Linked DNA regions of Homo sapiens: region 1 is linked to region 2. Evidence: fine-mapped expression QTL. Tissue or cell type: whole blood. Region 2 holds a variant in brackets; the other region holds the start of a gene. All regions are shown on one strand. Distances are from middle to middle.

Evidence for each region. PIP is the estimated chance that this variant, and not a neighbour inherited with it, causes the effect.
Region 1: it holds the start of GZMB, and the variant in region 2 is the best candidate, but not a certain one, in a credible set for the expression of GZMB in whole blood (TOPMed, PIP 0.51).

The regions. Positions count from the first base shown.
Region 1 is chr14:24,632,123-24,636,367 of GRCh38, forward strand. GZMB (granzyme B) reads right to left here and starts at 2,068. Exons shown (of 5, transcript NM_004131.6): 1 at 1,984-2,068; 2 at 793-940; 3 at 202-337. The coding sequence starts at 2,038. GZMH-AS1 (GZMH and GMZB antisense RNA 1) reads left to right here and starts at 980. Exons shown (of 3, transcript XR_007064087.1): 1 at 980-1,226; 2 at 2,174-4,245. RefSeq lists an enhancer at 1,447-2,646.
Region 2 is chr14:24,683,537-24,687,781 of GRCh38, forward strand. No RefSeq gene overlaps it. Among named protein-coding and RNA genes, the nearest start is that of GZMB, 51 kb to the left of the region's middle. The variant C/A (reference allele first, on the strand shown) is at 1,906.

The sequences.
Region 1 (4,245 bases), 51 kb before region 2:
TGGGGAAGAGGCAAGAAAGTCCAGGTCAGCCAACGAACTTCTGGGCCCCGACACAGTGATGGGGCTGCACAATCTTCCCTCTCCTCTGAGGCATAGGAACTAACCAAGAGGCCAGGATGGAAAGGAGGGAAGGGCCGGCATTCCAGGGGGAGTGGAACCAACTGGACCAAGAAGAGCAAGAGTGGCAGGAGTGTGCCTCACCTGCAGTAGCATGATGTCGTTGGAGAAGTTCTTAGGATTATAGGCTGGATGGGGGATGGGTCTTTTCACAGGGATAAACTGCTGGGTCGGCTCCTGTTCTTTGATATTGTGGGCCCCCAAGGTGACATTTATGGAGCTGCACAGAGAGCAGAGTGAGGATGGGGGTGGAGTCACAGGGTATACAGCCCAGAGACAGTGAAGAGCAGGTGACAGCTGGGGCAGGGCTGCAGCTGAGGGGAAATTAAGGGGACAGTCGGTCCCCAGGAATTGGAATTCTGGTAATTGCACCAGGTTTCTCAGGGTTCGGTTCCCCCTAGAAACACAGGTGGAATTGCTTCAGTTTGTATTCTATGCCAAAGTATGCCCCCAGTTCTAAATATGGCAGGCTTGGTCACTCTGCTGTTTCTTACTTCAGCAGCACCTCTGGAACCAACCTTCCCCTCTCTCCACAAACTTAACTGCCCTTTTCTCACCCTCTAAGGAGACCTCCTGGCATGTGTGTTCACAGGAGCCCAGGGAGCTCCTTGGGAAGAAGGCAGGGGTCTCTGTGGAGTGTTTCCAGGAGGGTGTGGGCTGTTTTCTGCTCCTCACCTTCCCCAACAGTGAGCAGCTGTCAGCACGAAGTCGTCTCGTATCAGGAAGCCACCGCACCTCTTCAGAGACTTCTGATCCCAGATCATAAGATAAGCCATGTAGGGGCGGGAGTGGGGCTTGGCCTCATGTCCCCCGATGATCTCCCCTGAAGGAAAAGTCTGTCTGCTTGTGGGCACCCATGGAATCTGCTGGGTGGGCACCTGCTTAGTGGCTCCAGAACTCCTGGGCATTTGGGAGCCTGGGATAGCCTGGAGTTGGGAGTGGCCTGGAGGAAGGGGCTTCAATTTCCTGCTCTGAAAAAGGGAAGAACAGCAGACTTTGGTCTGTAAATCTTTCTTCCATATGTAGTTGAAGGCGAGCATACCTGTCTTAGGGACAGTGAAATCCCAGAGGCTCCTGATCATTCCTCTCCTGACTTTGCTTTGTTTCAGGTGAGTTTCCAAGACCCTTATGAGTCCTGTGGTGTCTAGGATAGTGCTGCTTTCTAATGGCCAGGGTGTAAGTGGAGGGATCTAGATACTGTCATATCCTGTTTCCTAGAGCCTGACATGTAGTGGGTGCCCAGTAAATGTTCATGGCTGCATGATGGACTGGCTCCAGTTAGCCTCTGGATGAGGGCTGGTAGAGCAGTGCTGGTGGAATTCTAGAAAGCAGGGAAGCTGGGGCCTGCCGTAGTGCCTCATCCTTGGAAAGAGGGGAGCCACCAAAGGCCAGGGAAGAAAAGCAGAGTTGGAGAATGGGACTGAGCAAACACATTAACAGTGTTCTGAGGACAGTGATTGTACCAATTCTGCTGTCAGCTGAGCTCTGGGTTTCTCTCCTAAGTAGACAGTGAGAGAAGCACCTGTCTTATCCCAGAAACAGAAGCCAGGCCTACTCTAGAATAATTTAATATTTCTCTTTTCTAGTTTCCCATCCTCTGCCATTTACTTCTAGGAAAGTCCTACTCTCCAGGTGACAAAGGTGGGCTCTGGGGAAGGGATAGTACCCACTGGCTCTTCTTGAGAATGGCCTGCTGCTCTGCCATTCCTGCTGATAGCTTATCCAGCATCACACTTGGGGGGTCTTGGTAGAATGGGAGCTGGAGTTCAGAACATTCCTGGTAGATAGATGGATCAGGAATGTGGAGAAAGGGCAGGAGACCTGTGGGATGGGGTTGGGCCCCCGAGGGTGGAGACGGTCACTCACCTGCATCTGCCCTGGGCAGCAGGAGGAAGGCCAGCAGAAGCAGGATTGGTTGCATCTTCTCAGGAAGGCTGCCCTGGTTGGAGCTGCTGTTGTTTCCTCCTTGCTCTCTTTTAGCTCTTGGGAGAGGAAAGAGGTGGAGCAGGCTCAGTGACTTCATGTTCCCCTCTGGTTTTGTGGTGTCTCATCACAGATTTTCTGTAAATGCTGCCCACCCCCACTGCCTCTGCCTGATGACGTCCTCTGGGTGCTTGTGTGAGAATCATGCAGTGACCACATCATCACCCACAGCTGATGACTCAGAGTGGACCACCTATTCAGCCCAGAGCAGGAACCCAAGCCTATGAAGTGAATTGTAGGATGTGGTATCAGCCAGTAGAGGTACTGGAGCACCAGAAACCTGAGTTCCCAGTGATAGAACCGCCAATGCCTCATGGCCATGCTGCTAAATCCATCAGGATAGTTTCTTTAGCAGGTATGTGTTTGAGCCCTTCTGTTGTGCTAGAACCAAGCATGTTGGAGATGTGTCTCCTTCACTTAGAGAGCTGACCATCTGGTTGAAGAGACGGAAATGCCAGGAGCCAGAGTACAGTTTGGGGAGGGCTATGGTAGCACAATACACAAGGCAGTAACAAAGCATGGCCACCATCTACTAGACCCATCTAGCAACCCATTTATTATCATAGCTTCCTTTCTAGAGAATTTCTAACATCCCTTATTTAGTTACAAATGTTTAGTGTGAGAGTCCACCTCTTTTCTGAATGCTTTCAATAAAAGTCCTGTACTTGACATTTTATTGGGCTAGATTAATGAATTGCTAGGAGTCAAATCCACTTTGGGTAGGCTGGGGTCAGTCTACTCAAGCCACTAGAACCAAGAATGAGAAAGGGCTGGTTCTCTAAAGGACGTTTGTGGTGCTAAATTGCTGATACCATATGAAGTGAGGAAGCATGCCAGGCAGCCAAAGATCAGTAGTTGTGTTGTTTAGTATTCTGTCTCCTGTCCAGAGAGCCACACTTCTTACATAGCAGGCTCAGCACATAACAGGCTCACAGTAAACATTTGCTAAACAAACTACACTAATGCTATCATTATAATGGATGTGAAAGATTGTTGTTTCTGAACAGCCCGTGCCCAATTCTGTTAAAAGACAACTAAGTCTCTCTACATGGTTCGATTCTTGTGATTTGTTTCCACCTTTATATTTTCTGTGAGGAAATTTTTCTATGAGGAATGGTATATCTCAAAATATAGAATTCCAGTGTAAACGTCTTCCTTGTCAATAGCAAGCCAACTACATTTATCAAACTTCTATTTTTTGAACCTAGCTTGCCCCATAGTAGACGTTTTAAAAATAATTTTTTCTGATTATAGTCATAATATATGTTTGTTAAGAAAATTTGGAAAGTAGGAAGGGAAAATATCACTTTTTAACCTGTCTCCCACAGACTGACTGTTACCATAAGCAGTGTGTTTTAAATACTTGGGATCACATTGTACATACAATGCAATTTATTTTATCCTTGATTAACCCTACAAATTAAGCATTTTCCCCATGCTCGTAGAAATCTTAGTCAATACAACTATAGTCTTTCTTTCCTAGGCATTAAAAAATTTAATATGCAAGTAATTTTTAAATAATTTTAGCAAAGCGAAAATAATAAACATTACCTAATTTCTCATCATTCACTGATAACCATCTTTAATGTCTTGAAATATGCTCTAGCACATTTTTTCTCATGTAATATCTGCATTTTTTAAAATTAAAAGGGGATTATGCTAAACATAAGTTTATGACCCATTTAAAAAATTGAGGTAAAATTCACATAACATACAATTAACCATTTTAAAGTATTCAATTCAGTGACATTTAGCACATTCAAAATCTGCAACCACCACCTCTGGATATTTCATATAAACGGAATCACACAATACATGACCTGTTGTGGCTGGCTACATTCACTTGTAATAATGTTTCTGAGATTCATACAAGCTGTAGCACATGCCAGTATTCGTTCTTTTTAATGGAAAAATAATATTCCCATTGTATGTTTATACCACAAGTTATTTGTTCATCTGTCAATGGACATTTGGGTTGTTTTCATCTTTTGGCTATTGTAGCTAATGCAGCAATAATAAGCATTTGTGTACAAATTTCTGCATGAACAATATGTTTTCAGTTCTTTTGGATATATACCAAATATATATACTTTTGGAATTTCTGAGTTATACAATAATCCTATTTTTAATTTTTTAAGGAACCAC
Region 2 (4,245 bases):
TGTGGAAAATAGAGCAAGAGAGTGCAACACAAACCATGAAATCATATTTAAAGCTTTTTCTCAGATATGTACATGTCCTCACATCTTATTAACTGAATTATTTCATGTATCCAAATATGTGAAGTGGAGACACATTGTCTCTCCGAAGAGGGAAGACAACTCACATGACAGAAAGTGAGTGAGGATAAATCATCCTATTAGACTATGGGAACAAATAATTGGGAATAATAATCTATCATGATCCAACATTGATCACATATATTTTCTTCCCTCAGAATACATCATATTCTTGCCCATAAAAACTTAGCCTAAGGGCTGGCTGACACCTGTGATTCCAGCACTTTGGGAGGTTGAGGCAGGAGGATCACTTGAGCCCAGGAGGTTGAGGTTGCTGTGAGCTGTGATCACACCACTGCACTCCAGCCTGTGTGACAGAAAAAGACCCCATCTCTAAAGTCATTTAAAAGCAAATTAGCCTAAGGGCCAACTTTGCTTTTCAAATAGTCACAGACTGGCAGCACTTTTGACAACCTAACTCTCTCAAACACTTTGTTGTATTGTTTTAATCTATTTGGTACTGGTTGGATCCATGTTCCAATAGACACAACCATTACTCATTTCAAGAAAGACTTTCTCTAGACTTGATTATGGGTATGTGGGTATATCATGCTTTCATAGGAACGTACTCTTGATCTCTTTTCCCTGAGCCGTTTTGTCCAGTGGTGGAAAAAAAAATGTCTGCAAGTCACCTTAATCCAACCAGAAATCTTAACATAGGCCTGATGATGACACCTTTGGTTCTGTCTTTGCCCTGAGATGGAGTATTAAAAGGCCTTTCTATTTCAAGGAATACTTAAATTTTATATTTTATAGGTGGGAGGTGAGAAGGATTTTATTGTCCAAACTTGAAGGCCCAGAATTTCTTTGCTGCCTATTTTCCATCTCATTCATTGAAATAGGTGAATTCTTTCTGAGCTCACCTCTTATTCATATTACCATCATGCTCTCTTTCAATTTTTCAATCCTTCTATATTTGTCCATATGCAGCAAGTCCATTAGGAACATTATCTGCCTTCCAAGTTTAGAAGACACAATTTGACCAAACTTTTCACGACTGCATATCATGAATCTTACTTGTCCAACCTCCTGGAAGAATTCCCTTGCTACCTAGCCCTAAAGTTAATGCCTCATATTTTATATTTTTAGATATGGTAGCACTTCTGTTACCAATTTTTTTATTAGTTGGCCTTTACTGAGGTTGCAAATAACTCCAACATATCAGTATTTAACAACAATAAACATTTATTGATTTCTTGTTCATGTTACATGAGGGCTGAGGGATTATCTGTGACTCAGCTCAGCTTGACTGTGTTCAAGTCCATGCGTCTTTTTATTTCAGGACCCAGAACTGATGTAGCCACCCTTATCTTGGACATATTGTTCTTATAGTGTGGAGAGCAGGAACAATAGAAACAGAGGTAAACCAGATAATCACATCAGAAACTTCTAGTTTGACATAGGAAACTTACATCTGGGTGGCCAGAACATGCTCATAAATTCCATGAGGAAGGAAGGTATAGTCATCCCTGGAAGAAAAAGTCACATGACCAGAAAGAGAGCAAATAGCTGGGGTCAATAATACAATCTTCTAAGACTCCCAGATGTATGTCTTTAGCACTGGCATCTCTTCCTTTTGAGCACCAAACATATATTTAACTGCCTACCCAACATTGCTATTGAGATGTCCAATAAGCATCTCAGATTTAATATGCCTTAAACAAAACTCCTGAGTGCTCTGTTCACCCCAACCTGTTATGCCCTGCCTTCCATACCTCAATAAATACCATCAGTATTCTCCCAGGTAATCAGGAGGAAACCTCCAAGTTTTATTTGATTCGCTTTTCC[C/A]TTTCATAGTCAATGCATGAGTAAATTCTGCTGGTTCTACCTTCAATATACATCCCGATTTCTTACCATCGCCAGCACCATCATCCTAATAATCTTCTAACTTGTCTCCCTGCTTCTATTCTTGCCTCCCTAGAATAAATTCCTCATACAGAAGACAGAGAGATCTTTGAAGCATGCAAACTATATCTTGTTAGTCCCTGCCCCAAACCCTGCAACGTCCTGGTTCCTACACAGACACTGGGTTTCTATTCTACATGGTCAAGTCAATAGTAGGTTCAGAGTGACAGAAAGATCAGTATTAGAAATTTATACACTTGGGTAAATCAAAAGAAATCTACTTCTCTAAAGGACAGTAAAAGCCCCTGTAGACTACACATCAAATGTATCAGCAACATTTTTCTGGACAAGTGGTGATTGTAAGCTTTTGGATCTCGAAATGTTTCATTAGCTATGAGTTCATGTCCTTTGTAGGGACATGGATGAAATTGGAAACCATCATTCTCAGCAAACTATTGCAAGGACAAAAAACCAAACACCGCATGTTCTCACTCATAGGTGGGAATTGAACAATGAGAACACATGGACACAGGAAGGGGAACATCACACTCTGGGGACTCTTGTGGGGTGGGGGGAGGGGGGAGGGATAGCATTAGGAGATATACCTAATGCTAAATGACGAGTTAATGGGTGCAGCACACCAGCATGTCACATGTATACATATGTAACTAACCTGCACATTGTGCACATGTACCCTAGAACTTAAAGTGTAAAAAAAAAAAAGTTTCATTAGCTAGCCACAGGTCACAGATAGCAATGTCTGAGTGAGTGAGTGTCACATCAGAACATTTGGAAGCTCAACCATCTCATTTTAGGTTCATTAAAAAAATTTGTATACATTTAAGGAGTACAAAGTGCAGTTTTGTTACATGGATATATTGCATAGTGGTCAATTCTGGGCTTTCAGTGTAACCATCACCCAAATAATGTGCATCGTACCCATTAAGTACTTTCTTGTCCCTCACCTCACTTCCACCCTCCCCACTTTATAGTCTCCAATGTGTATCATTCCACACTCTATGTCCATGTGTCCACATTATTTAGTTCCCACTTAAGTGAGAACAAGTGGTATTTGACTTTCTGTTTCTGTGTAGTTTCACTTAAGATAATGGCCTCCAGTTCCTGCATGTTCCATGTTGCTGCCCCCATCTCTACTACAAATACAAAAATTAGCTGGGTGTGCTGGTGCGCGCCTGTAGTAGCAGCTACTTGGGAGGCCGAGGCAAGAGAATCGTTTGAACCCGGGAGGCGGAGGTTGCAGTGAGCCGGGATTGTGTCACTGCACTCCAGCCTGGTGACAGAGTGAGACTCCATCTCAAACAAACAAACAAACAAACACCAGCAACCATGAGTTCATTCTTTTTTTATAGTTTGTATAGTATGAGGCTGGAAGAGTTCCGTGTGTCTCTTGGTATGGACTGTGGTTGGAGCCCAACTCTGCTGAACCAGGTACATTCAGGGTTATCCAACATCTAAGATCACTGGAGAGAACAGCATGCCACCATAGGTTTAGATGCAAATACAGCCCTCAGTTGACACCCCATCTTCCCCAGGCTGATAAAGCCTGATCCAAGTGATTCCTGAATGCAGTCATGTAGATCTAGGCTCTGTTATCCAGGAGTCCCTGAGAGTCATGCTAACTGGCCTTCAATGTGGTTCTAGTCCTCTCCTGCAGTTCTCCAGCATACTTCAAATAAAATTCAAAGTCCCGAAAATGTTTTTAAGGTCCAACATAATCTGGTTACTGCCTAACTTATTTCTTCTGCTGTGGCTACATTGGCTTCTTACTGGTCCTAGAAGATGCCAAGCTCATTTCTGCTTCAGAAATTGCACATGTATGGTCCCTTGAATGGATGCTCTTCATAAATCCCTCAGATGCCTTCTCTCACCATTTCATTCAGGTCTCTATCCACATGTCACCCCTCAACAAACACTTTTGGTCACTCAATCCAAAATAGCTCCTGCTCACATTCATATCACTTTATATTGCCTTTTTGTATCCACAATACTGACCACTCATCACTTGACATAATATGTTTATTTGTTTACTCTTTGTCTTCCCCACTAGGACATAAAATCCACAAGGGCAAGCATTTTGACTGTATTGGTTCCTTATGTATTCCCATCAATCGGAACAGCACTTAAAGAATTAAAAATGCTTAATAAATATTTGTAGAATAAATAATAAAATGCACGAGTGAATAAATGAGACAAAAGAGTTTGAAGAGGAATAAAGAAAATGTCTAGATGATGAAAATCCTTCTGACAACACCACACAGAAGT